Linked DNA regions of Homo sapiens. The protein of the gene in region 1 interacts with the protein of each later gene in a pairwise test. Each region holds a gene or a part of one and is shown in the gene's direction. Other genes may lie near its edges. The genes, in order: RAPGEF4, SLC22A7, DSCAM, ZC3H11A and TSPOAP1.

What was found.
Region 2: the proteins of RAPGEF4 (region 1) and SLC22A7 interact in a protein complementation assay, tested with the Homo sapiens proteins (one large-scale study listed by IntAct).
Region 3: the proteins of RAPGEF4 (region 1) and DSCAM interact in a two-hybrid assay, tested with the Homo sapiens proteins (one large-scale study listed by BioGRID and IntAct).
Region 4: the proteins of RAPGEF4 (region 1) and ZC3H11A interact in a two-hybrid assay, tested with the Homo sapiens proteins (one large-scale study listed by BioGRID and IntAct).
Region 5: the proteins of RAPGEF4 (region 1) and TSPOAP1 interact in a two-hybrid assay, tested with the Homo sapiens proteins (one large-scale study listed by BioGRID).

What each region holds. Positions count from the first base shown.
Region 1 is NC_000002.12:173,010,843-173,017,070, forward strand, and holds part of RAPGEF4 (rap guanine nucleotide exchange factor 4), read left to right. Parts: intron 1-3,621; coding exon 3,622-3,772; intron 3,773-5,506; coding exon 5,507-5,595; intron 5,596-6,228.
Region 2 is NC_000006.12:43,302,534-43,307,651, forward strand, and holds the end of SLC22A7 (solute carrier family 22 member 7), read left to right. Parts: intron 1-121; coding exon 122-230; intron 231-551; coding exon of another isoform or gene 552-738; exon of another isoform or gene 739-1,498; intron 1,499-1,504; coding exon 1,505-1,711; intron 1,712-2,137; coding exon 2,138-2,192; 3' UTR 2,193-2,689; coding exon of another isoform or gene 2,690-2,720; 3' UTR 2,721-3,005; downstream 3,006-5,118. Other genes in the region: CRIP3 (cysteine-rich protein 3), read right to left, coding at 3,281-3,342, 3,534-3,591, 3,686-3,780, 3,913-3,984, 5,079-5,118.
Region 3 is NC_000021.9:40,013,162-40,019,389, reverse strand, and holds part of DSCAM (cell adhesion molecule DSCAM isoform CHD2-42 precursor), read left to right. Parts: intron 1-6,003; coding exon 6,004-6,228. UniProt on the Homo sapiens protein: Cell adhesion molecule that plays a role in neuronal self-avoidance. Promotes repulsion between specific neuronal processes of either the same cell or the same subtype of cells.
Region 4 is NC_000001.11:203,825,270-203,831,497, forward strand, and holds part of ZC3H11A (zinc finger CCCH domain-containing protein 11A), read left to right. Parts: intron 1-3,029; coding exon 3,030-3,153; intron 3,154-4,181; coding exon 4,182-4,385; intron 4,386-4,510; coding exon 4,511-4,627; intron 4,628-4,853; coding exon 4,854-4,934; intron 4,935-6,228. UniProt on the Homo sapiens protein: Through its association with TREX complex components, may participate in the export and post-transcriptional coordination of selected mRNA transcripts, including those required to maintain the metabolic processes in embryonic cells.
Region 5 is NC_000017.11:58,311,771-58,317,998, reverse strand, and holds part of TSPOAP1 (peripheral-type benzodiazepine receptor-associated protein 1), read left to right. Parts: intron 1-1,458; coding exon 1,459-1,574; intron 1,575-1,866; coding exon 1,867-1,976; intron 1,977-5,276; coding exon 5,277-6,107; intron 6,108-6,228. UniProt on the Homo sapiens protein: Required for synaptic transmission regulation. It probably controls the recruitement of voltage-gated calcium channels to the presynaptic membrane, and modulates neurotransmitter release.

The sequences.
Region 1 (6,228 bases):
GCCTCTGGAGGAGCAGAATCCTTTAGCAATGCCTGGATTCAGCTATAAAAGAAGTATCACCCCCACCCTCACTTTAGTAAATAAACATCCATGAGGGGACAAATGAGACTTTGTGAAATAAGTCAGCGCTTCCTTTTATTTTCCCAGGGGTAAAAATACTGAACTTTCGTGAGAAAAGGGAGAAAGCCTTTCCCAGTCCCTCCGGATTTGGTCAATTCTATCTCCCTAGAGGCTGTGGGGTTCTTCATCAAAGACAAGGGGTGCTCAGCCCTGGTGACTAAACATGCTGAATCAGCTGCGGGAACCTTGGAACTTCAGCGCGCGCGCGCACACACACACACACACACACACACACACACACACACACGGAATCTCTTTCCCATTAGGCTTTTTGCTTTCCAGATGCATTTATTCTTAATAATTTCATGAACCCAAGCACTAAGGTCTAGTTGCTATAGCTGCTGGTTAGGATAGTGGGGGTGGGAATAGTGGAAAGAGCCCTGTCTGAATTTGCAAGCCCTGCCATTTATTCACTCAACAACCTTGGCCAGATCTCTTCTCTCTGAATCTCCTTTTCCCCACCGGTAAATATTTCCTCCTCAGGTTTGTAGAAAGCATCATTTGATAGCATAAGAATATTGACTTATTTTATGAATTGTAAAGCTCTATACACATGTTATCATAACAAGTAGGAAAGAATCTTTCCTCTCTCTCTCTCTCCCCCCACTCCTCCTTTCTCTCTTACACATGTGAATACCTCCTTTCCAACATGTTGTCCAATGTAATATTTCAGATGAATAGGACTGTGCCCATTGTATCACCAGAACCTAGCATGGTGCTTTACTCAAAGTAGTCGGTTAATTAATAATTAGTGAATCAATTGGATCAATTTGAATAGTTTCTTTGCCTAAGTACTTGTAAAGCATTTTGATGTATTTTCTCTGAAAAGCATATTAATTCATTTGAAAATATATTTATTTCTTAAAAACCACATTAGCAGACTCCGTCTCAAAAAAAAAAAAACCACATTAGCACCTTAATTGTCCTATCTTGGGGTTATTTTTCTAAATTGAGGCTAAGTGTTCACCACTCTATTACTACCAGCTCAGTAAAAGCTTCCCTTTCCTCTCTATGCTGTTTCCATCTTTGAGTGATTCAAAATATGCTCATGTTGCATGTGTAGTGAAATATTTTTAAGATTGTAGTTTATAGAGTAACTTAGGGCACAGTGTGACATTCTTTTAAATTGGCATGATCTGAGAGAGAATTAAATTTGCTCATTTTTCACAGTACAAGGCCATCAGAAAGGTTGTCTTTCACAGGCACTATCACTTAGACTTAGAAGAGGGACTAGAGGGAAGAAGCCTAGCCTCAGGTACCCGGTGAGGAACACGCATGGTCCATAGTGGCATCAGGATATTTGGGACAGCAGTCTAGGGAGCGAGCCCAGCCTAATGGGAGCTTTGACACATACCGTACTCAGAATTCAGAATCTCCACTGACTCTTACATTTATAGGGGTTGGCATTCCTCAGCCCACACCCCTACTCCCCACCTTGGCCATTCTTACTTTCTCCATTTGGCTCCTATGCCATGGAAATGAAAAAGATAGCACCTGCCAAAGCCTGATGTCATCCAAGTTTCTGCACAAACACAAGATACCATAAAACTAAACCAAAGAAAGCACAGTGGCAACGTAGCATTGTATTTTCATTATGTTAGTTTGTGGCACCTATCTGATTCTCCTTCGGTTCACCTTGCCTTAGCGTTATTAAATGCGGTAGCTGAAAGAGAATTTGGAAATGATTTCTTCTCACCTCCTCATTTCATGGAGAGTAAATGGAAGTCTACAGTGGCTAAGTGACTTACACAATATCACATAGCTAAATGGTGGCAGCTAGAGGACTTGAACCCAGATCCTCCCACTCTCGGGTGAACCAGTACATATTTTTCAATCAGTCAAGACTTTCCTATTTGGTACCTACCATGCATCTGACTATGCTCCTACGTGCCATTAAAAAATGGTCATAAAATATAATGTCCAGCATTGCAACTCTTTGGAAAGAAAAACTCAGTTATAAATGCATGCAAGCAAGAGACCAAAGAGTTAATCAGAAAAGAAATAATTTTCACATAAAGCGATCTTTCTTCCTTTCTTCATTGTGAGCTGAGAGAGGATTGTAGCAATACAGGTTGAGCAATTTTCTTTTTTATGAATCTCGTGCTCAATTTATGAAAGCCATTTTGCAACCCATTTACATGCAGTAAACCTTTGCCTTAAAGTTCTGTCATTTACCTTGATCATGATTATTTATAGTCCTTTTAGACAAGGCTCTTTACTGGTTTAGCTCTCAAGCACAGCACTGTCACAAGCCAGTTTTCTACGTCTTTCAAGGCAGGGTAGGAAGCTAAGACAGGGCCAGTCTTGTAGCTCGCTGTGAGGAATGGGGGCTTTGGGTAATGGGAAGAACACTAGTTGGCATCAGGAGTCTTGCATTCGCAACCTCTGCACTCTCACTCTGTAATCCTGGCCATTTATGCTTCTTTAGTTTCAGTTTGTTCACTTATAGAAATGGAGCGACACTTTCATCACAAGGCTATAAAGTGGAGTTGAAGTGAAGTACTTTGTGTGCAAGTTATATTGTAAATAGTGAAGAGTAAGTTGTTTTATGAACTAATTATCTATAATATGAACTATAAATCATTGAAAAAGGAATGGTGTGTCTAACCTAAAATATTTCTTGATTACCTGTGATGTTGTGCCTCCTGTAGAGCATACAAGAATGGACCAGGGACCTTTACTCTTGGCACATAGGAGACTCTCAATCAGTACTTGTTGCATTAATGAATAAATACAGTTTCTGGGTGAAAGTCAGTATCCTAGGCGTAGTGTAGAATACAGGACAAATGACCATCATCCCAAGCCTCAAGGTGCTTACAATTAAGATGGTAGCCATAAATGTGCAAAGAGCCAGTAAGGTAAGTCATGGTTCTACACAAGAGAAGAAGATATGGTGTAAAAATGTGTCTGAGGCCCTCACCAGAGAATTGGTACAGCAGGAGCCTTTCCTCTTCCTACCTCTGGGTGAGTTTATCTACCTCCAGCCTCTCTTGCCCACCCATGCACTCTTTGTATCAGCCATGGTCCCAGCAGGACTAGATGCCCTGCTGGGCATTCAGTTTTACTGAAATGCATGTAACAAAGGGGATTACAGAGATTCGGGCAGAATTTTGGAAACCAACAACGGGTGGAAATGCACCCAGAGAGAAGCAATGGCAAGAAACATTACCACCCAGAGTAGCAAAGGGCAAGGCAGATCCTGGCAGAGAATGACAGCTAGAGCTAGACACAAGAATCCTTGTCCACACCAAGTCCAGGAGGAGTCTGTGAAAGTCTAATCCCTTGGGCAACTATCAGGCCAGAGTCAGCAGGAGTAAACAAGGAATTGCATGCATTCGGCACAGACACTTTCTGTGGGGTTTTTCATGAGGGCCTAGGGGAGGAATTCTATCCATCTAAAAGCCTGGCTTTCTGAAGCTGGGATCTGTCACTCTTTACCTTTGAAAGTAGCATGTGAAATGAGTGTGAAATGGCTCAATTTCTTCCTTGACTCCTCGGCACCTACCACGCACAGCCTTCACAAGGTACAGAACAGGAGAAAATGGATTATGCCCTCAACAATAAGAGGCGAGTCATCCGCCTGGTTCTACAGTGGGCTGCCATGTATGGAGACCTCCTGCAAGAGGATGACGTGTCTATGGCCTTCCTGGAGGTAGGCAGGGGTCATCTCTTCCAAGAATATACTGTTGTCCTGCAATACAGGGACCTACTTATAGGCTCAGCAGCTTCCCTGGAGAGACCGTAATTGCAAATGCTAGACTTTGTGAACACATTCATTCATCAGAAAGGAACTACAGAAAAAGTAAGGAAAAAATTTACCCATTATTCTGCCATTCTGACTCCCTAATGGGTAGCATTTTCATGTATTTTCATCTAGTCTCTTTTTCTTTGTATGTTTTATCTTGTAGTCACGTAGCACCCATCATTCTGCAGGCTGCTTTTTCCATTTATTTGATATAAGGATTTTTCTGTCAGTACAGTCCTTATAATAAAAATTTATTTACATCTCCTGAAGTAATCAAAAAAATATCTAATGACCATTGAGTAGCCATGTCACAGATATATTTATGTGTTCCCTTATTGTTGAGTGTTCACATCATTTCCAGTTTTCACCTTCCTAGAATAGTAGTACGGTAAAAAGTCTTGTGCAAGTGATTCTGTCCTTGATTACCTTCCTAGAAATGGGATTACTAGATCAAATGGTAGATATTTTTGAGTGGAGTGGAGCAGATCATTTATTTAGGAATTGCTAGAACTGGAAATGGTAGGCTGTGAAAGTGGTTCATAAACACTGTTGAAAGCTGCACTTCCCCGTTCCTTCCCGTAGCTCTAGCCCCAAATTACAGCACTGATTCTGACATTTAAGCTCAATTAGTCGCTCTCCCCTCCAAAATTTGGATGAAGACCTGACTTCTGTTCAGGCAAAAGGCAATGTTACTTCCGTTTCAAACTTTTTCAGTCTGTGTTCTAAAATTATAAATTATCCAAAAGAAACATACACCGTCTCTCCTTTCTATTCATATCATTTCACAGCCAGAGGTGCGAGGCAGTGAGGAAAGATGGACCGAGAGCATCCCTCCAAGCTGAGGAATGAAGTATTTTGAAAATGCGAGGAATGGCGGTAGCTTGGGGTCATACATTGACTCATGGCCTCTACCCGCTGAGTACAGGACCATTTTGTAGATGAACTAAAGTGGTGGTGTAGCTGGCACTGCCATGGTTCTCACCTTCTGCTGCAGAGCAGGCACACCTACAGCTGCAGGGTCAGGACAGTTCCCAGAAGGGCATCAGAGAGTCCTGAGTTGGTGGCACAAACTCATCATAAATTCGCTACAGTGCTGAAGACCATGCTGCATCTTACCACCAACCATGACCCAGAATGAGTGACACCTAGTCAATAAACAATACATACCAAAATAATGTGAAAACGAACATTAAAATTCCCCTGAGAAAAATGAACTAAAAAAAGCACTCTTTTGTGGACTCCAAAATGACCCATTTCAAAACATTGGCTTTCATATAAATATCATATAAACAGTTCACCTGCAATTTACTTTGAATTGAATTTTTATTGTTGTAAAATAGATATCTAATATAAATTTTCCCATTGTAACCATTTTTAGGTGTATAGTTCAGTGGCATTCATTTCATTTCTGATATCCGTGCAGTCATTGATTGCCACTATTTCCAAAATTTTTTCTCATGGCCAATTTTGAACTTAGACATAGTGTAACATTTTCTTCTTTGTTCTTCCTCCAGTCCATGAAGCCATGGTCTGGAGATGCTGGTGAAGCAGATGACATAGGGACACATCTTTATTGCTCTTGACAGAATCATGTGCCTTTTGCAGTTCTTGTTAAAAGCCTGTGACTTTTGCCAATTACAGGAGTTTTATGTATCTGTATCAGATGATGCCCGGATGATTGCTGCCCTCAAGGAGCAACTGCCAGAGTTGGAGAAGATTGTCAAGCAAATGTAAGGAAGGGCTTGACTGTGGGGGTGTGCTTTCATCAAGTAAATCTCAAAAAGTCCTTTGCCCACAAGAAAGGTTAAAGCTGGTCTTTCCATAGCCATGCCCCGCTTGATTTGATTTAAGCAGACTGGGCTGAGGGCATAGGTGGTGCAGTAAGGCCAGAGGAACAGAAGGACTGAGATTCTGTTCATTCTGTGCTAGAGGGCTGCCAAAAGATAGCCTGGGAAAGAAAAGATCCTCCTGGGTGGAGTCCAACTCAATAAACCTGGGTCCCTTAGGTTCAAGGCAGTGAATCTGGCAATAAAATGGCCAGCGGCATTTAAAGAAAGTTTGAGGGCAACTACTTATATGGAAAATTCACTAACTGCTGCCAAAGCTGTTGGTGGTGAATATTTGTGTCCTCTCAATGAACCAGAAGGTTTTCACATGCTATTACTTGAACTATAGATTAAATGCAGTATCAGAGAGTGAGTGTGCTGCTAGATAGACTTTGAAAGCTAGAAATCCTGGCTTTGAACATCGGTTCTGCCAGGAATCTGCCTGTGACAAGAGCTGATATCTTTGCTGTCTACCCTTCTGCTTTGATCTATTACTATTAAAATGAGGAAGCTCATATTGTCTCCTGAAAGGATTCT
Region 2 (5,118 bases), on another chromosome or scaffold:
CCAGTGAGCTCAGACTCTCCACCACTTAAGTTTGGCCCACTCTGGAGACTCCGCACCCTATCCAGAACACCCCTGGCTCTCCTCCAAGGCCCTCTCACTACCTGAACCCGCTTCCCTCCAGATATGAAGTCCTGGAGCACTGTCCTGGCAGTGATGGGGAAAGCTTTTTCTGAAGCTGCCTTCACCACTGCCTACCTGTTCACTTCAGAGTTGTACCCTACGGTGCTCAGGTGAGGAAGCCTGCAACTGATCTGGGGGTATGGGGCTTGTTAGTCACGTGTCTTAACCAACACTTCTACATACACGCACCACAACCTGGTCTCTCACTCATTTTTTTTTTAATTTTAATTTTTGGTAGAGACGGGGTCTTGCTATATTACCCAGACTGGTCTCAAACTCCTGGTCTCAAGCGATCCTCCCGCCTCAGCCTCCAAAAGTGCTCGTATTACAGGCACTATTACAGGCATGAGCCACCGCACCCAGCCTCTCACTCGTTCTCCACACTACACCCAGAATACAGAGCTAATCAGGGCCCTCTGTGTTTGCCCTAGTCTTGGAGAAGGCAGAGCATCTTATCTTCTGTACTATGTGACCCTGAGCCACGTCAGACATCCTCTCTGGGCCTCCTTAAGAAAACAACCCCAAGGCCGGGCACTGTGGCTCACGCCTGTAATCCCAGCATTTTGGAAGGCCAAGGCGGGCGGATCACTGAAGGTCAGGAATTCGAGACCAGCCTGACCAACATGGTGAAACCCTGTCTCTGCTAAACATACAAAATTAGCTGGGTGTGGTGGCGAATGCCTGTAATCCTAGCTATTTGGGAGGCTGAGGCAGGAGAATCGCTCGAACCTGGGAGATGGAGGTTGCAGTGAGCTGAGATCATGCCATTGCACTCCAGCCTGGGCGAGAAACTCTGTCTCAAATAAATACATAAATAAAAGAAAAAAATTAAATAATAATAATAATAAGAAGAAGAAAACAGCCCCAAGAAGCCCCATCCTGCCCACCCCCATCCCATTCACCCCTGGAAGGCAGAGATGCCCTTGAGGACTGTCCCAAGAGCAACCCCTTGAAAGGCCCGGGGTTGGGGGGGTCTTTCAGCTAGCTACTGAGAGGTGGGAAGAGGAAAATTCTAGGCATCTGGTCATGTTTAGAAAGAGGTTTGCCTCCTCGAACAACATGGCAGGGCCTGTACAAACTACTGACCTTCTTCCTTCCACATCACCCTTTCCTTATCTCCCAGTCTGGTGACTTGTCTTCTCCTTTAGTGATACCTAATTGGTACTCTGTCAGAATGGGGGCCCTGTCCTCTGGTGGGTGCTGGCTTGAGGTCTCCTGGCCTGAAGGTGGGTGGGAAGACCAACTGAAAGAAGTCCTAGTTTTCTTAGCTATATGGGGAGAAGGGAGTATCAGGGCCTGCCAGCCCTGGAGGGAAGCCCTGTGGGGCATGACTCCAGGTAGGTGTGAACACCATCTGCCTCCCTCATCCTCTTTCTCTGAACAGACAGACAGGGATGGGGCTGACTGCACTGGTGGGCCGGCTGGGGGGCTCTTTGGCCCCACTGGCGGCCTTGCTGGATGGAGTGTGGCTGTCACTGCCCAAGCTTACTTATGGGGGGATCGCCCTGCTGGCTGCCGGCACCGCCCTCCTGCTGCCAGAGACGAGGCAGGCACAGCTGCCAGAGACCATCCAGGACGTGGAGAGAAAGAGGTGTGTGCACAGGACTGTGTCTGTGTACGTGTGATAACATGCATATGGATGCAGGTGCTCAGATACCTGACACCTTAGGATTCAGACAGGAAACTATATCTGCACATGTGTACTTGGTGCATGTATGTGTGCGTGCACAGGTGAGTGTTTCAGGGTGCATGATTGGGGGCATGTAAACTGCAAGCATAAATGTGTACATGAGTGTATGAACACAAATACATAAGGTTGTTCAGGAAGATGTGTATGTGTGCACACTCAAGTATGCCTACACATCAGGGGTGTGTACAAGCATGTGTGTGAGTCACTTGTACAGGCGTTTGTATACCAGGAACTGGGGTGAGCCCTGGGACAGCCCTGATGGGGCAGGCTGGGGTGGTAGGCTCGGGGATTAAACCCCACCATTGCTCACAACTCCTTCCTCCCTAGTGCCCCAACCAGTCTTCAGGAGGAAGAGATGCCCATGAAGCAGGTCCAGAACTAAGTGGGAGTGGAGGCAGGCCCTCCACAGAAGCTCTGCAGCAGGGGCTGGGAGAGCAGAAGGGCAGGCCCTGCAACTCAGGCTGGGAGTATCGAACCCTCTGCCTAGGGCCGGAGTTGCTGCCAGTACCCGCTCCCTCTGCTCATCCATCCTTGATTATTTGGCTTCTAGGAACAGTTGACTTCCCAGAATGCAGTGGGCTGCTGGGCACCCCTCTCACGGTTGGGGAGGATTCTGTAAATAAAGGTGCCCCTTGGGTTGGGGCAGTGGTGACGAGCTGTGGGAAGAGCCCTGGATAGGAAGCCACTGAGTCTGCCCTGGGCTCTGATAAAACCTTCACCATTAACTTGCTGTGTGACCTTGGGCATGTGGCTTTCCCTCTCTGGGCCTCAGTCTGTTCATCTCCCAAATGGATAATGAAGCCTCTTGGGAGGCCCTACCATAGGATCTGTTGCCATGCTCAAATGAGTTACTGAATAAGGTGCTTCTGCTTCTTCTAGAGATGGTGCTAAAGAAAGGACTAGCATATGAGACTTCTGGTACCAATGGGGCTGGTGGGCATGCTGTCCACTGTGTGGTGCTAGGACTGCCAATGCCAGGCCCAAGGGACAAAAAGAACAGAGCTTTTTGTTCTCATGGCTGGCCCTGCTACCTCCGAGGCACCCTGCAGGGCAATGCATGTCATCCCAACCCCCACACTCCCCATCCTCCAACCCACTGGTCTCATGCCCAAAGAAGAGTTGAAGGCATGGGAGCCAACATTTTATTGAAGAAGCCACAGAGGCTGAAATTCAATAAACACAAGTTTTATGAGTACCTTGAAGCTCCAGAATGTGCTGGGGAAAGGGGTTGTGATGGCCAGGAGGAGGATACCCTTCAAAACGGGCTGTTCCCTAACCAGATAGAAATGGGAAAGGGAAAAAATTGGCAGAGAAAGTCTAGACTCTCTGGCCTACCATGGAGCCTAGGCCCAGGCCCCCAAGATCCCACCTTCCCCAACCCCCATGGGACTGGAGATTTTTGTAGCTTCCATTGGACCATGAGGGGCATGATGGGAGGCCTGAGTTAGGGTGACCTTTTTTGTGAGCGTCTCATTTGAATTTTATCTTCACTGGGTCATAGATGTAGCAGCCCACATCGCCAATGTTCACACCTGAGAGAGAGAGCCCTATCACCAAAGGCCCTGGGTCTGTGGTGCAGGGTTCAGGCCTAGAGGGAACTTGGTGGGGGGGCCAGGGTATGCTTAACCACAGGGGAAGTTGTCCACACATACCCACAGACCATGTACATGCCATACTTCAGGCATGTACATGCCATCCCAGTGTCTGGGATGGGGCTGCCCACCTTTGGGGCCAAACAGGTAGCCGTAGCAGGGGACGTGGCAGTAGGGGACTCCATCATGCTGAGACACAGAGAGAAAGAGAGCTGTCTCAGCCTGGTTCTCTTCCCATCTCCAGCCTCCTCCCAACATAACCACTCATTCCTGCCCTGCTCACCTCAGCATGACTCCCAGCAGTCAGGGTCTTGTGGCAACGCTGGCACCTCAGACACGGTCGGTGCCAATTTCTGCCTAATGACATCACCTTCTCAGCTGGTGGTGGAAAGAAGTGGTAATGCTTCCATTCTAGGGGTAGAGTAGGGAGACCTACCTGCCTTGGATCACCTCCCTCCCCCTTGCTGCCCACCCTGTATCCCCCTCCCCAAGTTTTCCACTGTTACTTACCAAAATAGACGGGCTCCCCACAGCCAGGGCACAGCGAGGTCTCCCCAGTGAATGTCTTCATATGGGGAGGGCCTTTAAAGGGGAAGAGGCCCTGGCTATGTCTGAGGTGGAGATGCCCACCAGCACCTGCCTGCATATGGTGCTGTCCTCTTTCAAAAGCCATGCTCATTCCAGAGTGCCCCACCCAGGCGCCCAAGAGTCTGCCTTCTACAGGCCCAGAGCTGAGCCCCCTCTGACTCCACCTCCTGCCCCATCCCTATGTGTATTAGGGACTATCTGCTTCCTTCTCCTGCTTCCTTTTCATCCTCCCAGGGGCTCACGTACCCACCATCCCAACCCTGTTAGCAACTCAATCCTCAGGAAACTTGAGCTGATATAGGAGCTGGCCACAGCACGGGTGTCAGGTGTTGGGGAGCACAGTGTCATTGCCTACTTCAGGGAATGGAGGGAAAGAACAGGGACCAGAGGAGAAAAGTTGAAGAATATGAGAGGCTGGCCTTATCCCAATGACTCCTCTCCTTTAGATCATTCCTTCCATGGCCCTGGCCTGGGACAGACCTAAGTTCCTGGCCAGCTTTGCCTCTGACTAGCTTTGTGGATGGACAGTCATTTGCCCTGTCTGGATCTCACTTTCCTCACCTGTAACACACGAGGAGAGGGGATAATGCCATCTGCCCAATTAACCTCTTTTTTTTTTTTTTTTTTTTTTTTTGAGATGGAGTCTCGCTCTGTTGCCCAGGCTGGAGTGCAATGGCATGACCTTGACTCACTGCAACCTCCGCCTCCTGGGTTCAAATGATTCTCCTGCCTCAGCCTCCCAAGTAGCTGGGATTACAGGCATGAGCCACCACACCTGGCTAATTTTTGTATTTTTAGTAGAGATGGGATTTCACCATGCTGGCCAGGCTGGTCTCGAACTCCTGACCTCATGATCCACCTGCCTCGGCCTCCCAACAATTTACCTCTTAACTCAGCAGCTCACATGAGGGAATAGAAAGAAAGAAAGAAAAAAAAAGCGGGGAGTAGATAGAGAAGACTTTGCCAAGAATGAAGTTGTGAGAATGTGAAGCAGAGGGCTGGATAGGAGACTGCCACCTGGCCCAACCTCCGCTCCAGCTTGGGGAAGGGTCGGGAGGAGGACTGGGAGGAGCTGAGCCCAGCCTTACTTTTCTTGCCTTGGGGGAGGCCAGTCCTTGGCCTGGGAGG
Region 3 (6,228 bases), on another chromosome or scaffold:
CCTGTCAGATAAATGCAGGCAATGTTATCCTGGCCTCTATTCCTCATCACCACAATTAAAGCCAAGGGCTGGTTTCTCCCATGTGACACAGGCAGATGGCAGGCAGGGCACTGGGGAATGCTGTGCCAATGTCCCCATGGTCACCACAGTCTCACACATCATGTGTCTCTTTCTGGATCAATAACTGCATGAGTTGTCTTGCTATGTGTAGGCATCTTAAGCATATAGGAGGACAATTAGAGAATCCAGGTCCTCAGAGGCTTTGTTGATGAGCACATGGGCTGGGGTTTTAAAGAACATAAGTGCCTGTAATAACAGAGCTTACCGCTGACTACTCTGGTGCTCTCTTCTCTGTAAGTGCATTAATTATTGAGAGAACTCATTTGCAGCACGCACACAGTTGAAAGGGCTACTTTGGACGCTAATCAGAAAATACACATTGTTGAAGGGAGCTAATTAGAGAATCACACAACTTTGTAGAGCTTTGCCTGAAAAACTGGATCAATCAGAGATATTGGATATTCAGAGATACTTGTCAGACCTGCAATAAACAAATACATGTAGGCATTGCATGTAAAGATGTAACACTGAGCTGTTTCCATTAGGAAGGATTTTTATTTCTCATCTGTCCATTTCAGTGACTGGAGCCCTCTTGATAACTACATCTGAAGTGGGAGCCCCTGCAGGCAGGATGCAGATATTATGAGTCCTATCTTTTGATTTCAAACACGTTTCTTCCTTCCAATCTAAGACCTGCGCATTCTGCAGTCCAGCCGGGACCACAATGCTATTACTTTGTGGAGGTTTAATAAGCCCTGTGCATTCAATGGGGAGTCACTAAAATAGAGATTTATCCCCAAATCTGTTGCAACACATTACAAATATGTCAAGCGTTCGTGATTGAGTCGGGTCTCAGAAAGAGCATGAGGCATTCTTGACCTATATATTTAAAGAACCCTGGAGGTAAATGTCTGTCCCATTTCCTCAAATATACAAACAACATGATAAAAATAATATTGAATAAAAATAATTTAAAATTTAAAATAAATAAATAATAAAATTAACAATTTGTTTATCAGATTCTTAGGAATAAAGACATAATCACTTTCAGGAGATTGAATGTATAAAACTACAAATCGCAAGACTGGTCAATTAAGGTGTATTGATTCACATACAAAAGGATGTTCACATTACAAAAGAATTATTCAATTTTTTCTTAATGACAGCTCTGTTAATGCTTTCATCACTTTTTTTGCAAATAATCCCTGGTTAGAGAAGACTGAAGAATAACTACCATAAACGAACATTAGTAATTTTCAATGCCATCAAGTTTCATAAAGTTTTAAAAACTCAAATTCTTTCAGGAACAAAGCTATTCTATATGGCAAGAGATTCCTGAACCCTCCACATTAGTGTCTATAATGGGTAGGCCTCATGCCATTATATTTTTCTAAGCCAAAGTTCAGATGCATCAAGTTACCAAAACCCTTTTTACAAGAATGCCAAATTATGTAATTCCTTCCTATAAGAATGTTATGGGCCAGGTGCGGTGGCTCACGCCTGTAATCCCAACACTTTGGGAGGCTGAGGCGGGTGGATCACCCGAGGTCAGGAATATGAGACCAGCCTGACCAACATGGAGAAACCCTGTCTCTACTAAAAATACAAAAATTAGCCAGGCGTGGTGGTGCATGCCTGTAATCCCAGCTACTCAGGAGGCTGAGGGGGGAGAATCGCTTGAACCGGGAGGTGGAGGTTGTGGCGAACCGAGTTGCACTCCAGCCTGGGCGACAAGAGCAAAACTCCATCTCAAAAAAAAAAAAAATGTTATGGCCCATTTATTGTCTAGGTATTTATTACTGAGCTTCCCTTGGATCCAGTTGACAGTAGGAAGCCAACGTTGAATTAGAATGCCTTTAATTTCAGTGAGCCCAGTCCAGTGTCGCTGGGGTCATTTAGTGAATTACATGCTGCCATTCCCAGTGAAATCATATAACTACTCATCATCACTTAGTAGAATAAAGATATCCTGAAAAAGCTAAATGGAGTTTTGAATCATAAATCCCAAGTGGTGCAACAATGTAATAACACAATGACAAAGAAATCATTTGCTGCATTTCCCAAAAATAAGGTCATTGCTCCTGTTGTTCGCGGAAAAAAATTTTCAAGACGGGTAATAACATTTTGAAAATTTGTATGCTCATTTAAATTGTATAAAATGCATTTTTAGGGCTTGATTTGGCCATATTTATTTTTAGTTCTCTTATACTTTTTTTTTTTTTTTTTGAGATGGAGTTTCATCCTTGTTGCCCAGGATAGAGTGCAATCGTGCAGCAACCTCCAATGCGCAGGTTCAAAAGATTCTCCTGCCTCAGCCTCCTGAGTAGCTGGGATTACAGGCGTGTACCACCACGTCCAGCTGATTTTTCTATTTTCAGTAGAGACGGGGTTTCCCCATTTTGGCCTGGCTGGTCTCGAACACCTGACCTCAGGTGATCCATTGCCTAGGCCTCCCAAAGTGGGCGGGGATTACAGGCCAGTTCTCTTATACTCTTGAATAGTCCTTTCCTTCTGTTATGCTGGTTGTTCTTTTTCTGTGGGTAAACTTGAAGGTGTTTCCTAAGGTTCAGGCTTTAAACACTGTCTAAACACATATCACTTTCATTGCCCCGCTAGCAGAGCAGCTGGCTAATGGCAGCCCTCACTTGGCTCAGGTGGTCTCAGATCCCCTCAGCCTGCACCTTCGGGGCCTATGGGTCCAAAGGGGCTGGATGAGGAAGGCTCAATTAATTATTGTTAGCATACAGTAACATAAGGAAAGCAGGGGATATTTTGAAGCAAAAGAAACAAGAATGTTCAGTTACTTTAGACTCAGAAAACGAGCAGTGAGTCATCCTAGAGCTACGTTTCTATGATAAAAATACCTACTAGATATCTTGTCTTGAATGTCCCCAGCTGCATCAAACTCAGCAGGTCTGAAACTAAACCCTTCATCTTTTGTCATCAAAGTACGATCTTTCCCCTATACACCCTTTCACAGTTAGTGATTTCACTGTCCACACAGTTTCCTGAGCTTAGAGCCTGGGAAGGAGTCACCCCTAACCCCTTCTCCTCTGTCACCACTCCCACTTGTCATTGACTCTGAAGCCACCTTCCTTGGACCCCCTTCATATCTCACAATTTAATTCCCTCTCTCACATCCCACAGCTGCTCCTGAGCTCAGACCATCATCATATCTCTCTCCCTGCACATCCTTTACCCTGGGCCCTCGCTCCAGGACCACACACCACCAGCCCATTCTCTAGACAGAGTTTTGCACCTGGTATGTCACGAGTTACAGGTGTGCCAAGATGGTGAGTCCTTCAGACCTCAAGGTGGCCAGAAACAGCTCCCTGGGTTCATCCCAGTGTACTGCACAAATACCCCTTGTCTGCCTGTTCCTCAAAAAGTGGGAAGCACTGGGCTGGATAAGGCACACTGTCTGTACCAAAACAGCAGAAACTCAGACCCAGCGTCAGTCCAGCTCAAGTCAGGCAGTGTTGGTTGCAAAGTGGACCTGGTGGCTGGGCCCTAATTGTGCTCATGCTTTGCAAGGAGGTGATGGGATATATTAAAGCCTTGAAACAGGGCCCTGAAGATGGGAATGAGAAGGAGTCAAGGCCAGGTGGCTCATGTCTGTAATCCCAGTGCTTTGAGAAGCTGAGGCAGGAGCATCACTTGAGTTCAAGAGTTTGAGACCAGCCTGGGAAACCAAGCAAGACCCTGTGTCTCCAGAATATTTTAAGAATAATAATTAGCCAGGCATGGTGGTATGTAACTGTAGCCCTAGCTACTCTGGAGGCTGAGGTGGAAGGTTTGCTTGAGCCCAGGAGTTTGAGGCTACAGTGAGCCATGAATGCACCATTGCACTCTAGCCTGGGCAACAGAGCAAGACTCTATCTCTTCTTGTTTAAAAAAGAAAAAAAAAAAAAAGAGTCAAGAGATATTTTGCCGGTAGAATTAACCTGGAGAGAAAGGTGTCAGTGAAACCTCTGAGGTTTCAAGGATGGAAGGATGGTGATAATGTTACACAAGATGGAGCACACAGGAGAGAAGCAGTATTTGGGATTGGGAGGGGATGGGGTTGGCCTTCATTAACTGAATTGGTAGACTGTGGCCTTCAGAATTCCAGATGGACACTCGTGTGGAAATGCCTAGCAAAGCACCTAAAATTCACATCTAGGGCTCAGGAGAAAGAGCAAAATGGAAAAGATAGATGGGAATGTTATTTATAAAGCAATGAGGAAAGCAGCCAAGCCTTCCGAGAGAGGCCTGAGAGCAGGCCACTGAACACTCCGTATTTAGAGGAAAGACAGAGAAAAGGATCCAGTCAAGGAAAGTGAGAAAGGGTGGCCAGAAATGTAGGCAGAGATCTGGAAGACCACAGTGCCCTGGCAGCTGAAAGGGCCAACAACAAAAATATCAACGGCATCAAATGCTATAGTAATGCAGGTAGGAAGAGGACGAAGAGGAAACCAGAGAATTTGGCAATGAGAGGTCAGGGTGACCTTTCAGTAGCTGATGGTGAAAGAAGCTGTGTCAGTTCAGGTTTTTGAGAAGCGCCTAGCAAGACAGATTAGACACACAAGGAATTTATTGGGGAAATTCTTGTGAAGAAGGAAGCAAAAGGAAGCAGGAGGTGGCAAGGAGAGTCTGGAGACCATAACAGAGGTCCGACACCTGTGAGAGGAGAAGGCGAAGGAGGGATTGGTTGGAGGCACGTCAGGCTGCGGTGCACTTCTGAGAAGGCTGCAGTGAGGCTGATGGGGTATCCCTGAGCAAAGGATGCCTGTTAGGGAGATCCTGCATCGGGCGGGGACGGCCATGAGAAAAGCCCTGTCACGCTTGTCATTGGCTTGCAGCATCCCAGAGAACACATGCCTCCCTTCCTGCAGCAGATGCTCTTGGTTTTTTTGTTTTGGTTTGGGTTTTTTGTTTGTTTTGTTTTGTTTTGTTTTGTTTTGTTTGAGTCTTGCTCTGTCACCCAGGCTGGAGTGCAGTGGCATAATCTCAGCTCACTGCAACCTCCTCCTCCCGGGTTCAAGCGATTCTCCTGCCTCAGTGTCCCCAGTACTGGGACTACAGGCGCCCACCATCATGCTTGGCTAGTTTTTGTATTTTTAGTAGAGAGGGGGTTTTGCCATGTTGGCCTGGCTGGTCTTGAACTCCTGACCTCAGGTGATCCTTCCGCCTCGGCCTCCCGAAGTTCTAGGATTACAGGCATGAGGCACACCGTGCCCAGCCAGCAGATGCTCTTGAAGGAGACCTGAGGTTATGTTTGCGTGGCACCACAGAAGCCAGAGTGACCATAAGCAGGAAGTAGAAACACTAGAATTCTGGTCTAAGCTGCTGTCATCTCTATACACAGCATGGCTGAAACAGAAGAGCCACGCAGAAGTTAGCAGGTAGGCAGGGCCTGGTAAGAAGGCCATAAGCTGTGGCGCTTTCACCCAAAGCCATCATGAAGACCCATAACTAAGTGGCTGGCCAAGGTCACAAGGTTTCATAGAATTGCCAGGACGAGAGCCAGCTGTCCATCTTCGCTTGGCGTCCCTGGCTCTCTCCTCAAACCCTGTGCTCTCCCTGTACTTCCAATCACATGCGGGGTTTGGTCTATCACCGTTCGTACCCAGTGGACACTGATGCCTTTGATGTATGTTTTTCTTTCAACGATGGTGTGTTGAAGGATTCTGTTACCTCCATTCCTCCATTTCTGTACAAGTAAGTTAATACAAGTAAGTAAGTACTGTAGGAAAATGAGCTCCTCCCGCGCCCAGGGAGGAGGTAGGAGGACGATTCCACCTGTCTTTGTGGTGAGCGCTGAAGGAGGATCTTGAGAAAGGCACCTGTGTGCAGCGGCATTCTCATCTCTAAAGCCCGCATGGCTTCCCGTGTGCACACAGGACATTCTGCCCATGTTTACCAAATGAAGACACCAACTAACTACCCTGTCTTTCCTTCTAGGTGACCTCATACATTTGCCTCCATACCTTAGAATGGACTTTTTGTTAAACCGAGGTGGTCCAGGCACCAGCAGGGACCTGAGCTTAGGACAAGCATGCTTGGAACCTCAGAAAAGCCGGACCCTGAAGCGCCCCACGGTCCTGGAGCCCATCCCGATGGAAGCCGCCTCCTCCGCCTCCTCCACGAGAGAAGGACAGTCGTGGCAGCCGGGGGCCGTGGCCACAT
Region 4 (6,228 bases), on another chromosome or scaffold:
TAATGGTTTAGTATTTACTAATTCAGTGTTCCAAGTGACTTTATAGAACATAACTACTGCAAATAATGAGAATCAACTGTTTTATCTTTGGATCATGTGCTGTATTACTGTTAAAAATGTGAAGACATAATTATGTAGGAGAAATATTACTGTGGAGGATTTTTTTTTTTTTTTTTTTTTTTTGAGGTGGAGTCTCACTCTGTCACCCAGGCTGGAGTGCAGTGGCTCCATCTTGGCTCACTGAAACTTCCACCTCCCGGGTTCAAGTGATTCTCCTGTCTCAGCCTCCCGCATAGCTGGGACTACAGGCGCCCTCCACCATGCCCAGCTAATTTTTGTATTTTTTAGTAGAGACGGGGTTTCACCATATTGGTCAGGCTCCTGACCTCAGGTGATCAACCCACCTTGGCCTCCCAAAGTGTTGAGATTACAGGCGTGAGCCACCACGCCTGGCATGTGGAGGATATTACTAAGGAAAAATGTACAGAATTACATGGAATACCTTTCTTTTTAGTATGCATATAGTCACTTGTGATTTTTTTTTTACAAGTAAAAACTCATACCAAAATAAGTGATTCTCTGGGTAATAGCATAATTGGCATTTATTTCCATTTTCCAAGTTGTCTTCGTTGCACATATATTACTTTTCAATTAGAAACAAAATCTAGCAAATGTATTAAACAGATCAAATAAATGTCATGTGACTTCTGTGTATAGAAGATACTGTTACAGAAGTCATTCAGTAATTTGAAAATTGCTTCCAGGAAAGATGTAAAATTTAAGCAAAGGTAGGCTTAGGAACAAGGAAGATTGGCATTAGGTTCTGCCTTGAGAAAGGAAGAATTGAATAATTGTTATTCCTGTCTAAAAAACAGTGGTAGCTATTACATCTACCTTTCGGGTGTGACAGAGGACTAATAAATTCTTCCTAGTTCTTTGAAAGTAACGGTATTTGCTGTACTTTTATTTTTACTTTATTTTTACTGCTCCTTGTGGAGCAGGGCCACTCTATAGGTAGTGTGCCCACAGTAGCCTATACTTTTAAAAAATATTATACTTTTAGAAAATATCAATAATATTAAAATTAATAAATAAATATTGATTAATAATAATTAATTCTTTTTAAAAATTATACTTTAAAAATATTAATAGGTAATTATGCATATGACATAAACTTAGAACATAGTTTTAAAAAACTGATTTTGCCAAATCACCTTTCAGAGATGTGGAGCAAATTTACATTTCCATTATGTGTTTGAGACTGCCTGATTCTTCCACGTCCCTGAAAACAGTGTATAATTGAATTTTATCACTCTCTCAATATAGTAGATTTTGACCTTTGCCCTTTTTGATACATTTAAGCATCTTTTTGTAATGGTTATTGTTTCTCTGTCTCTCTTCTCCATATTCTTAAATTTCAATGCTGGTGTTTTTTCCTGGAATTTTAAACCATAGGCTGTTTATGATGATTAGAGATTCGACATAATGCAGTTCATCGGAGGTTAGTTAGTTTTTGGGAGTACTTCTCATATCTTTTTTCCCCCTTTTTTGAACTATTAAAATGTATCTAGAAAAGTGCAAAATCGTAATCTTACAACTTGAAGAATTTTCATAGAGTGATTATACTTACTTGATCAGCACCTAGTTCAAGAAATAGAGTATTAGCAGTAATCTATCTTCCCCTTCATCCCCTTGTTACTAACCACATCCCCAAAGCTGATCAGCATCCCAACTACTCTACCATGGAGAAGTTTTGACTGTTTTCATCTTTTCATAAATGGAATGGTATAGTATGCACTCTTGTGTCTGGCTTCTTTCATTTCACATCTGTGGCATTGAGTATAGCAATGGTTTATTCCTTCTCATTACTAGATGATATTCTGTTGTACGAATACTTTACAGTTTCTTTATCCATTCTAGTATTGATGTACACATGGGTTTGCAAAATTATAGAGCTATTGAAAATAATATTGCTGTGAACATTGCTTATACACAGCTGTTGGAGAACTAATGTATATATTTTTCTAGGACATACATCCTATGATTCAGCAGTTTATTCTATTCTAGATGCACAGGTATTCTTTTTTTTTTTTTTTCTCCCAATTTTCCTTTATAAAAGTAAGGTGACTGGCCGGGTGCGGTGGCTCACACCTGTAATCCCAGCACTTTGGGAGGCTGAGGCGGGCGGATCACGAGGTCAGGAGATCAAGACCATCCTGGCTAACATGGTAAAACCTCTTATCTACTAAAAATACAAAAAAAATTAGCCGAGTGTGGTGGCAGGCACCTGTAGTCCCAGCTACTCTGGAGGCTGAGGCAGGAGAATGGCGTGAACCCGGGAGGCGGAGCTTGCAGTGAGCGGAGATCGCGCCACTGCACTCCAGCCTGGGTGACAGAGCAAGACTCTGTCTCAAAAAAAAAAAAAAAGTAAGGTGACTTGGGAAGGATACCTAACATCCTTAGTGTGTTGTTATAGGTGCCTTACTTTGAGAATTCATGAATGGGAAGAATTTTCTCAAACCCTTGAACTCTCAGCTTCAAGTAATAACTGCAGTTTATTGAGTTTGACCTATGTGCTTAGTGCTTTATATACATTATTTTATGTACTCTTCATAAGAAACCATTTATTCCCGTTTTATAGCTAAGGAAAGTGAGGCTTAGAGGCATGAATTATCCAAGGCCACCTGGCCAATAAGTAACATAATAGAGATTCAGACCGTTATCTTTGATTTCATAAACTTAAACTACTGTATCATCCTGCTTCTCTAAATTAAGTGTAGACATTTTAGGGGTTCCAGGATGAGGGTAAAAAGGGAAAGAATAACATAAACTACTCTCCTGCTCCATTCAGCTCTCCATCATGCCTAAGTTATGTTATTTTCAGCAATCTCTCTTCCTTCTAAAAATCATCTCATCTCACATGCCTCGGATTTTTGAACCCTGTATGAACTTTGTCTAGAAAACAAACTGCCACATGAATATACGTATCACTGTTTTATTTGAAAGCAATGTGTTTTTCCCTCTTACAGAAAAAACGCAGTGAAATTCCTTGTTATTGGGAAAATCAGCCAACAGGATGTCAAAAATTAAACTGCGCTTTCCATCACAATAGAGGACGATATGTTGATGGCCTTTTCCTACCTCCGAGCAAAAGTGAGATCAGTTTTTAATTTTAAAAGAATATCAAATGAACACCTATTATGCACACTGTACAACAGTACTTTTCAGACATTGACTCCTTTCAGTCTTGTGAAACAGCAGAATTATTTCCACTTTACAGATAAGTGAACTGAATCTTATTAAGGTTAAATGATTTATCCTTGGCCTTAGAACCATTATATATCTTGGCATGCCATTTAAGTTATTATACTTACTTCATTTCTCATATTCTTATCAGACCCATAAACGTTTTCAAAATAAATTTGATTTTCTAGGTCAAAGGTTGGCAAAACTGGTCCTCTGCCTGTTTTGTAAAATAAGTTTTATTGGAATATAGCCTTGCCCATTCATTTACATATTTTCTATTATCAGTTTTGTGCTAGTGCTATAGAATTGAGTAGTTGAGACAGAAACCATATGGCCCACAAAGCCTAAATTATTAACTGGCTCTTTACAGAAAATATTTGCCAACCCTACTCTAGACTATAATCTAAAATAAAACTAAAAAGCTAGTGGTTATTCCCAAAGTTCATTTTAAAGTAATTTAAAAGTGGAATTGGCCATTTAAAAGCCACAGTTGCTACGTGATTAAAATTTGATGGCTACATCTTTTTACCTCAATTTAAGGGAAAAAAGTAGACTTATTCCTTTCTGGTTTGGTTCAAGTAAGTGTCATATGCTTGGGTCTTAGAAGCTACTTCTTTGCTGAGCAAAAAGCCTAGAATTGCAGTATTAAAATTAAAGGTCTAGAATTTGTGAACAGGTACTATGCTTCTTCTAGTCTTCTGTTGATTCTGTTTTGAGTGCCCACTTTGTGTTTATGTACAGTGGAGAGTTAGTGGAGAGTTAATTAGGTAAAAGCACATCTTTTCCCTCCCTGGGACTTTAGAACTTAAATGAGGAAATTTAGTATAAATGCTCATAAGACAAATACACTATAGTTTTCATAGGTGGTCAGGAATTTTTGGTAAGTTGGGGTTGTATCTTCTGTTTTTAATTTATGACTGATTTTGTGCGTTTAGCTGTGTTGCCCACTGTGCCTGAGTCACCAGAAGAGGAAGTGAAGGCTAGCCAACTTTCAGTTCAGCAGAACAAATTGTCTGTCCAGTCCAATCCTTCCCCTCAGCTGCGGAGCGTTATGAAAGTAGAAAGTTCCGAAAATGTTCCTAGCCCCACGCATCCACCAGTTGTAATTAATGCTGCAGATGATGATGAAGATGATGATGGTAAGTTCTGTCTGGCTCCTTCTTTAAGGCAAATAAATAGGGTCTCATAGTGAATTGGGCAGAATCAGGATTAAAGCTATAGGCGTATTTTTAATTGTGAATTTGCCTTAAATGTTGATATATAGATCAGTTTTCTGAGGAAGGTGATGAAACCAAAACACCTACCCTGCAACCAACTCCTGAAGTTCACAATGGATTACGAGTGACTTCTGTCCGGAAACCTGCAGTCAATATAAAGCAAGGTAAGAAGAGGCTAGATTGGTGCCTCTTATAGCACTGTTGAAACTACCTTTGAAATTTAGTTCACAATCATTGACCTCCCTCTTCTTTTTCCCATGCTACACGCATACTTACCTATACTTAGTTTCTGTTGATCATTTATTCAAAAATAAATGCCTGCTATGTACAGATAAAATACAAAGATGAAAAGGCTCCCGTTCCTCATAAAATTTCTATTTGAATTTTCAGGTGAATGTTTGAATTTTGGAATAAAAACTCTTGAGGAAATTAAGTCAAAGAAAATGAAGGAAAAATCTAAGAAGCAAGGTGGTAAGTCATCACGTTTTGGCATGGATAGTTGTATGTTGCTAGGGAAGAATACTAAGGACGCTTCTAGAAGCAACAGCCAAAATGAGCAAATAGATTTTCATTTCCATGGCCTGTTTGAAGTAAAACACAGACTTATTTAAATTGTGGTTGCTTTTAATTCACTGCAGCTGTGTTTCAGTCCCTAACTTTTCAGAGCTGGGTACAATAAAGAATCTGAAAGAACTTGTATATCTTGAAAAATATAGCTCTGAAGAACATCATATAAGAACTATATTAATTCTGTAAGTTCTTATAGTGGTTAAAAAGAAATTATATTAAGAGAGGAAAGGCTGGGCGTGGTGGCTCACGCCTGTAATCCCAGCACTTTGGGAGGCCGAGGAGGGCGAATCATGAGGTTGGGAGATCCAGACCATCCTGGCCAACATGGTGAAACCCCGTCTCTACTAAAACAAAAAATTAGCCAGGCGGGGTGGCATGCACCTGTAGTCCCAGCTACTCGGGAGGCTGAGGCATGAGAATTGCTTGAACCCAGGAGGCAGAGGTTGCAGTGAGCTGAGATCGCACCATTGTATTCCAGCCTGGCGACAGATCAAGACTCTGTCTCAAAAAAGAAAAAAAAGGAAAAACGTCATTTTCTAGTAGAAGAGTTCTTCCTCAAGAGCTGCTAGGATTTTCTTCTGGAGCTTACGTCAGCCTGATTGCTCTGTATTTCCAACCCCCAATTTTTTTTTTTTTTTTTTTTTTTTTTTTTTTTTTTTTTGAGACAGAGTTTTGCTTTTGTTGCCAGGCTGGAGTGCAATGGCGCAATCTTTGCTCACCACAACCTCCACCTCCCAGTTCAAGCTATTCTGCTGCCTCAGCCTCCTGAGTAGCTGGGATTACAGGCATGCGCCACCACGCCTGGGTAATTTTGTATTTTTGGTAAAGACAGGGTTTCTCCATGTTGGTTGGGCTGGTCTCGAACTCCCAACCTCAGGTAATCCACTGCGCCCAGCCCCCAGCCTTAAAATTTATAGTGTGAAGTGTAGTATATATAGAGAGAAATGGTTCTAAAAACCTTCTTTTAAGGCTTGCTTTATAGCAACCTTGGAGTTGTGTTTTCAGATGATTAAATAGAATAGGTTGGATTGATACACCTGATGGCTAGTGTACCTCTGAGGTTAATTTTAGAATAATACTAGCTTTATTGGTAAATATTAGCCTTATTGGTAAATAAAAGTAGTTTGGGTGCCTAAGTCACTCAAAATAATTTTATATTTTGTTTTCACATCATGCCCAAGGCTCCCCTCACCAC
Region 5 (6,228 bases), on another chromosome or scaffold:
TTGGGCACCAGGATCTGCATAATGAGACTGTTCCTAAGAGCATCTGTAGTGAAAGCAGGTGGTTGTATGAGAAAGCACATGTTCCAGGATTCAAATCCCAGCTTTGCCTTAGGCAAGTCACTGAGCCTTTCTGGGCTTCTGTTTCCTTATCTGAATCTTGGAGCTAATAAAACCTGCCTTCTAAGGTTGTTGTGAGAGTTAAATGAATACGGAACCTGCCTGTCTCAGTGTGGGGCACACAGGATGTGTGCTCAACACGGGGCAGCTGTTATTATTACTAAGCTCCTGGGCATCACTCATAGCTCTGGTCGTCAACTCATCCTTCTTTCTACCCACAAACCCCAGAAGGTGGAGGAGGCAGGTCAGAAGCAGCTCTGAGAGCCAAACATTCAGAAAGTGGTAGAACGAAGCCCTGGGCCTCTATTGCCCCCTCGTGGGATAGAAGGATGGTGCCAGCTTTGGATGTGGTTGTGGAGAGGTTGCCCACTTGGTCCCCTTCTCCCAGGCATTGGCAGAGAAGAGAAGACAGCCTGTTCCCCAGGCTACCCCAGCAACCTCAACAAGGGTCAGAGAATTGGGGTGCCCTGAGGTTGCGGTGCCCTGGGCTGTGGGCCGGGCAAGTAGACGGGAAGTTCTGAGTTCCAGAGCTGAACAGCAGACACACTGTCACTCGGCTAGAAGCAGGGACCCCTCAAGCTCCTTCTGCCTCCTTTCTGCCTCCTTGCTTCCAGCGATTTACAGTTGGGGTGCTTTGCTGAGGGGTTTCTTTTTTCTTTGTTTTTGTTTGTTTGTTTGTTTGTTTTTAGACAGGGCCTCGCTCTATCCCCCAGGCTGCAGTGCAGTGGCGCAATCTCAGCTCACTGCAACCTCTGCCTCCTGGGCTCAAGCAATCCTCCTACCTCCGCCTCCCAAGTAGCTGGGACCACAGGCATGCACCACCACACCCAGCTAATTTTTGTATTTTTAGTAGAGATGGGGTTTTGTTATGCTTCTCACGCTGGTCTCAAACTCCTGGCTCAAGCAATCTGCCCTCCTCAGCCTCTCAAAGTGCTGGAATTATAGGCGCGAGCCACTGCACCTGGCAACTTTGCTGAGTTTTTACCTTAAGGAACCAAACCAAACTTCTGTTGACACCCACTCCCCACACCAGCATGGCCTGGGCCCCTCTGAGATGAGGGAAGTGGCTTTATTTCCTGGCGGGTGCAGTAGAGGCTCAGGGAGGGGTCTGGGTTATCCCCACTGCCCCTGCCCAGGGCAGCTGGGCTCTGCCAGGACCTGCTCTCTCAGGCACTAATTTAGAGAGCATCAGGGGGTCCTTGCCACTGCTCCTGTGCAGCATGTATGTGCTCATTTTCCCTCCTTAAAGCAATAGGTCCTCTGGCTCAGCCTGGAAACCTGCCTGCTTGGCGCTTGGCCCCAGGCCCTGAAGAGAAACCAGCCCTTTCTGTTTGCCCCCAGGTGGACACAGCCAGTGAGGTAGAGGAGCTGGAGGCAGACAGTGTCTCCCTGCTCCCAGCTGCGCCAGAGGGCAGCCGGGGAGGAGCCAGGATCCAGGTCTTCCTAGCACGTTATAGGTGGGTCCCTCACCCTCACTGCCCCCTAGCCCAGCCCCAGCATTTGGGGTATAGGAGGGGGCCGGGTGGAGCTGGAGACCTCTGGAAGTGGTGGGGGCAGTACAGGACACAATGGACCTATTCTAATAACCTAGTTGGGCCAAGGTGGGTGCAGTGAGGGCTCAGCTTTGCTGGTGGTGGACAACCACAACCAAGTCTCCGTAAAGGCTCAGTGCAGTGGGAGAGAGAAGACAGGACATGGAAGTGGAGTGTAGGTCACTCTCCTCCTCCTCCTCTGTGCCTCCCCTAACAGCTACAACCCCTTTGAGGGTCCCAATGAGAATCCAGAAGCAGAGCTTCCGCTGACAGCTGGCGAGTACATCTACATCTATGGCAACATGGATGAGGATGGCTTTTTTGAAGGTAGGAATGTAGTGGGGGGTCATTCTGTCCATTCCCCTGCCTTTGAGCCCATGTTCCCAAAGACGGATATCCATCCATCCATCCATCCATTCATCCATCCATCCATCCATCCATCCATCCATCCATCCATCCCCTCTGCCCAGCGTGCTCAGCCCACCTTAACTTTTTGGTCTCAGCTAAAAGGCATACAGAGACCTAGTAGCCACTGGGGAAAGAGAAAGAAGGGAGTCTGGCTCCAAGCAGGACAGGACAGCATAGTCCAGATGGTGGAGAGAGTGTCACAGGAGATTTTGGCTAGATTCATTTTTGTGTGGATAGTCAGGGCGTGGCAGTGTTTCACAGTAGTGACACCTGAGGTCAGGTATGCAGCACAGATTTGATGCTGGACTCCAGTCAGGTATGCGAAGGAGGAATCAGGGTAAAGATCCCAGGGGAAGGTGTTCTCAAGCGGTTAGCAGCTGTCAGGGCCCAGGCAGGGTGTCTGCTTCAGGGAGGTTCTGCAGCTCCTGTGGGGAGTCAGAGGGCTGATCAGGCAACTCAAGGCAGATGCCTCATTGAGACTGGGCACTATGGGCCTGCGGAAGACATGGCCTTGGGAGACTCTCTCAGGGTGGCTCTGGCCTGGGTACCACCAGGCTGAGTCCATCAGCAGCAGAGAGGATGGCACTGTGTAGAGAATTGGATGGGGCATGGACAGGGCAGGGCGAGAGCCGCAGCTGTGTGTAGAGATTTAGGAACAGGCTTAGCTCTGAATCTGTAACCCTGGAAGCTTGGGAGCCTGCTCAGTTTCTTTTCCCTGGGTCCTCTGCCTGTTACTTGAGGAGCTGCTGAGACCCATGGTACCTGGCTTTGTGGCCTAAACAGTTAAACTCCCTACAGGGGTAGATTATGAAGATCAGAATTAAAAAGCTTTCAGGAAAATAATACTTTATAAATGAAGAAAAAAAAACCCCACCCAAATCAAAAACCAAAACCCAAACACTTTATTTTTGGAGGGGGCAGCAAAGGCATAAGTATTAACTAACCACAAATGACTAGAATTTGAACTCTGCGATCTGGGATAAATTGGGATAGATGTAAATGCCACCGGGGGCAAGATGCCGTATTCCCTGTCCAACCTTAGCTAAAGGACTGCTTCGTCTATGTCTGGGCCACCTAGGCTGTTCTCAGCTGCATGGGCTTCTGGAGCATGTGCCTGACTCCGGCCCAGGCTCCAGCTTCAGCCCTGCAGGCTGGAGATCCTCTTAGTGTGAAGACTCCTGCCTTTGTCTCCCACTCCACAGTGCTGGTGCTTATGATCGTTTCCTAGGGCTGCAGGAGCAATTACCATAGAGTGGCTTGAAACAATAGACATTTATTCTCTCACTGGCCTCTTCTGGAGGCCAGAAGTCTGAAATCAAAGTATTGGCAGAACTGCATCCCCTTGGGGGCTCTAGGGGAGGTTCCGTTCCTTGTCTCTTTTAGCTTACGGTGGCTCCAGTTGTTCCTTGGCTTATGGCCACCTCACTCCAGTCTCTATCTGTGGTCACCATTGCCTCCTCCTCTTAGTGTTTCTCCTCTGCATGTCTCTTATAAAAACACTTGTCATTAGATTTAGGACCCACCCGGATAATCTAGGATGATCTCATCTCAAGATCCTTAACTTAATTACATCTGCAAAGACGCTTTTTCCAAATAAGGTCATGTTCACAAGTTCTGGGGATTAGAACATGGACATGTTTTTGGGCGGCCACCATTCAACCCTCTACAGTGCTTATTATATCAGTGAATTTATTGACAGTCCCTCTTGTTTCTTCAAGTTCCTTACTTTTTTTTTGCCTAGCATAGGCAGAGAGAGAGAGGGTGGAGGTGAGGGGCACAGATGACTGTTGGGGGAAACTCCAGGCCCCCCTGCAGCTCAGACCTGCCTACACTCACCCCTCTCCCCTAAGCCCTGGCTCGTGCTCCCCCTTCCTCTCAATAAAGCACACCAGCTACCAGCTGTCTGTTTCCTGAGACCTTTTTTTCTTCTTTAAATTGACCGTGACATTACATGCTGGGTGCCCAGCTTCCTTGACATCCCTCAATCAAACAACAGCAAATGTTTTAAAATACTCTCTTGTCAAGTCTTCAGGAGAACTGATGCAGGTAACAAAACATAACCATTGGTGGTTGCCTGGATTGACTGCTGTCAATCATGCTGCTAGACACAGGCCTGCTGGGGCTCCTGATCCTTCTAGAACTTACAAGTGACTATTTCACTAGCACTTACTTCATTTGTCTCTAAAGATTCCTCCTTTACCCTGCTGAGTTGGTTGTCTCTCTCTCCCTCTGTGGATGTCTGCTGTTCACAAAGAGAAGTTGAGGGGCACCCTGGCCCCTATTCCTCAGGCCCAGGTAAAACCCAACCAGCAGAATTTTTTTTTTTTTTTTTTTGATACAGCATCTTGCTCTGTCGCCCAGGCTGGAGTGCAGTGGCGCGATTATGACTTCTAGCTTCTGCCTCCCGGGCTCAAGCAATCCTTCCACCTCAGGCTCCTGAGTAGCTGCAACTGCAGGCGTGCAACCACTCCCAGCTAATTTTTGCATTTTTTGTAGAGATTGGGTTTTGCCATGTTGCCCAGATTGGTCACAAACTCCTGGGCTCAAGCGATCTGCCTGCCTCATCCTCCTGAAGTGCTGGGATTACAGGCATAAGCCACCATGCCTGGCCAGTTTTCTTATCCTGACCTGCTTATTTTTTAAAACTTTAATATGAAATTATGAAATTATTATTGCAATTTTTAACACAAAAGTTTTCAAATGTACAGAATATATTTGAATATTTATATAGCCAGCACCTAGATTCAACAATTGTTAAAACTTTGGCATATTTGCTTTATATGTAGGTTAAACATGATTTTAAAAGCATTATGATATTTTACCTTGAAATACTCAACATGCTTACTTAGAACATGATATTCTCCTCCATCCTTGCAGCTTGAGTGTCACCTGGTGGCTTATTAGAATCACAGAATCTCAGCCCCATCCAGACCCAACCGAGTTAGAATCTGCATTTTAACAAATCTGTAGGTGATTCATATGCAAGTTAAAATTGAAGAAGCACTGTCCTATAGAACCAAAATACTATTATCAGACCTATCTCTAATCCAGATCTTTACTGCTCTTGTCTTTTAAAAGAATTGACAGTTAAATGTTGATTTGAATCAAATGCTGAAGATCACCCACTAGCAGTTGCTAAAATGCATTTATTATACCGTTTTTTCTTTATCTCCTCTCTGTCTTCCCCTGCCCTGCCCCTTCCTGTCCTCCTCCTGCCAGGAGAGCTCATGGATGGCCGAAGGGGCCTGGTCCCTTCCAATTTTGTAGAGCGTGTGTCGGATGATGACCTCCTGACCTCCCTCCCTCCAGAGCTGGCCGATTTGTCCCACAGCTCAGGCCCTGAACTCAGTTTCCTGAGTGTAGGTGGGGGTGGCAGCAGTAGCGGGGGCCAAAGCAGTGTGGGAAGGAGCCAGCCCAGACCTGAGGAGGAGGATGCAGGGGACGAGCTCAGTCTGAGCCCATCACCGGAGGGCCTGGGCGAGCCTCCTGCCGTGCCTTACCCCCGCCGTCTGGTGGTCCTCAAGCAGCTGGCCCACAGCGTGGTGCTGGCCTGGGAGCCGCCTCCTGAGCAAGTGGAGCTACACGGCTTCCATATCTGTGTGAATGGGGAGCTGCGACAGGCCCTGGGGCCTGGGGCGCCACCCAAGGCCGTGCTGGAGAACCTGGACCTGTGGGCCGGGCCCCTTCACATTTCTGTCCAGGCCCTGACTAGCCGGGGCAGCTCTGACCCACTGCGCTGTTGCTTGGCGGTGGGTGCCCGGGCCGGAGTGGTGCCCAGCCAGCTGCGGGTCCATCGGTTGACAGCCACATCTGCTGAGATCACCTGGGTGCCCGGCAATAGCAACTTGGCCCATGCCATCTACCTCAATGGGGAAGAGTGCCCACCTGCCAGCCCCAGTACCTACTGGGCCACCTTCTGCCACTTACGGCCTGGCACACCCTATCAGGCCCAAGTGGAGGCTCAGCTCCCACCCCAAGGGCCCTGGGAACCAGGCTGGGAGAGGCTGGAGCAGCGGGCTGCCACCCTGCAGTTCACCACACTCCCAGCAGGTATGTGGGCTTGGGCCCTGTTGTCCAGAACACCCAGGAGGCCAGGCCATGGGTGACGGAAGAAGGGGACCCTGATCTTATTTGCGTTATCAGGGAAATAGCAAATTGGGCAGGTATCTCT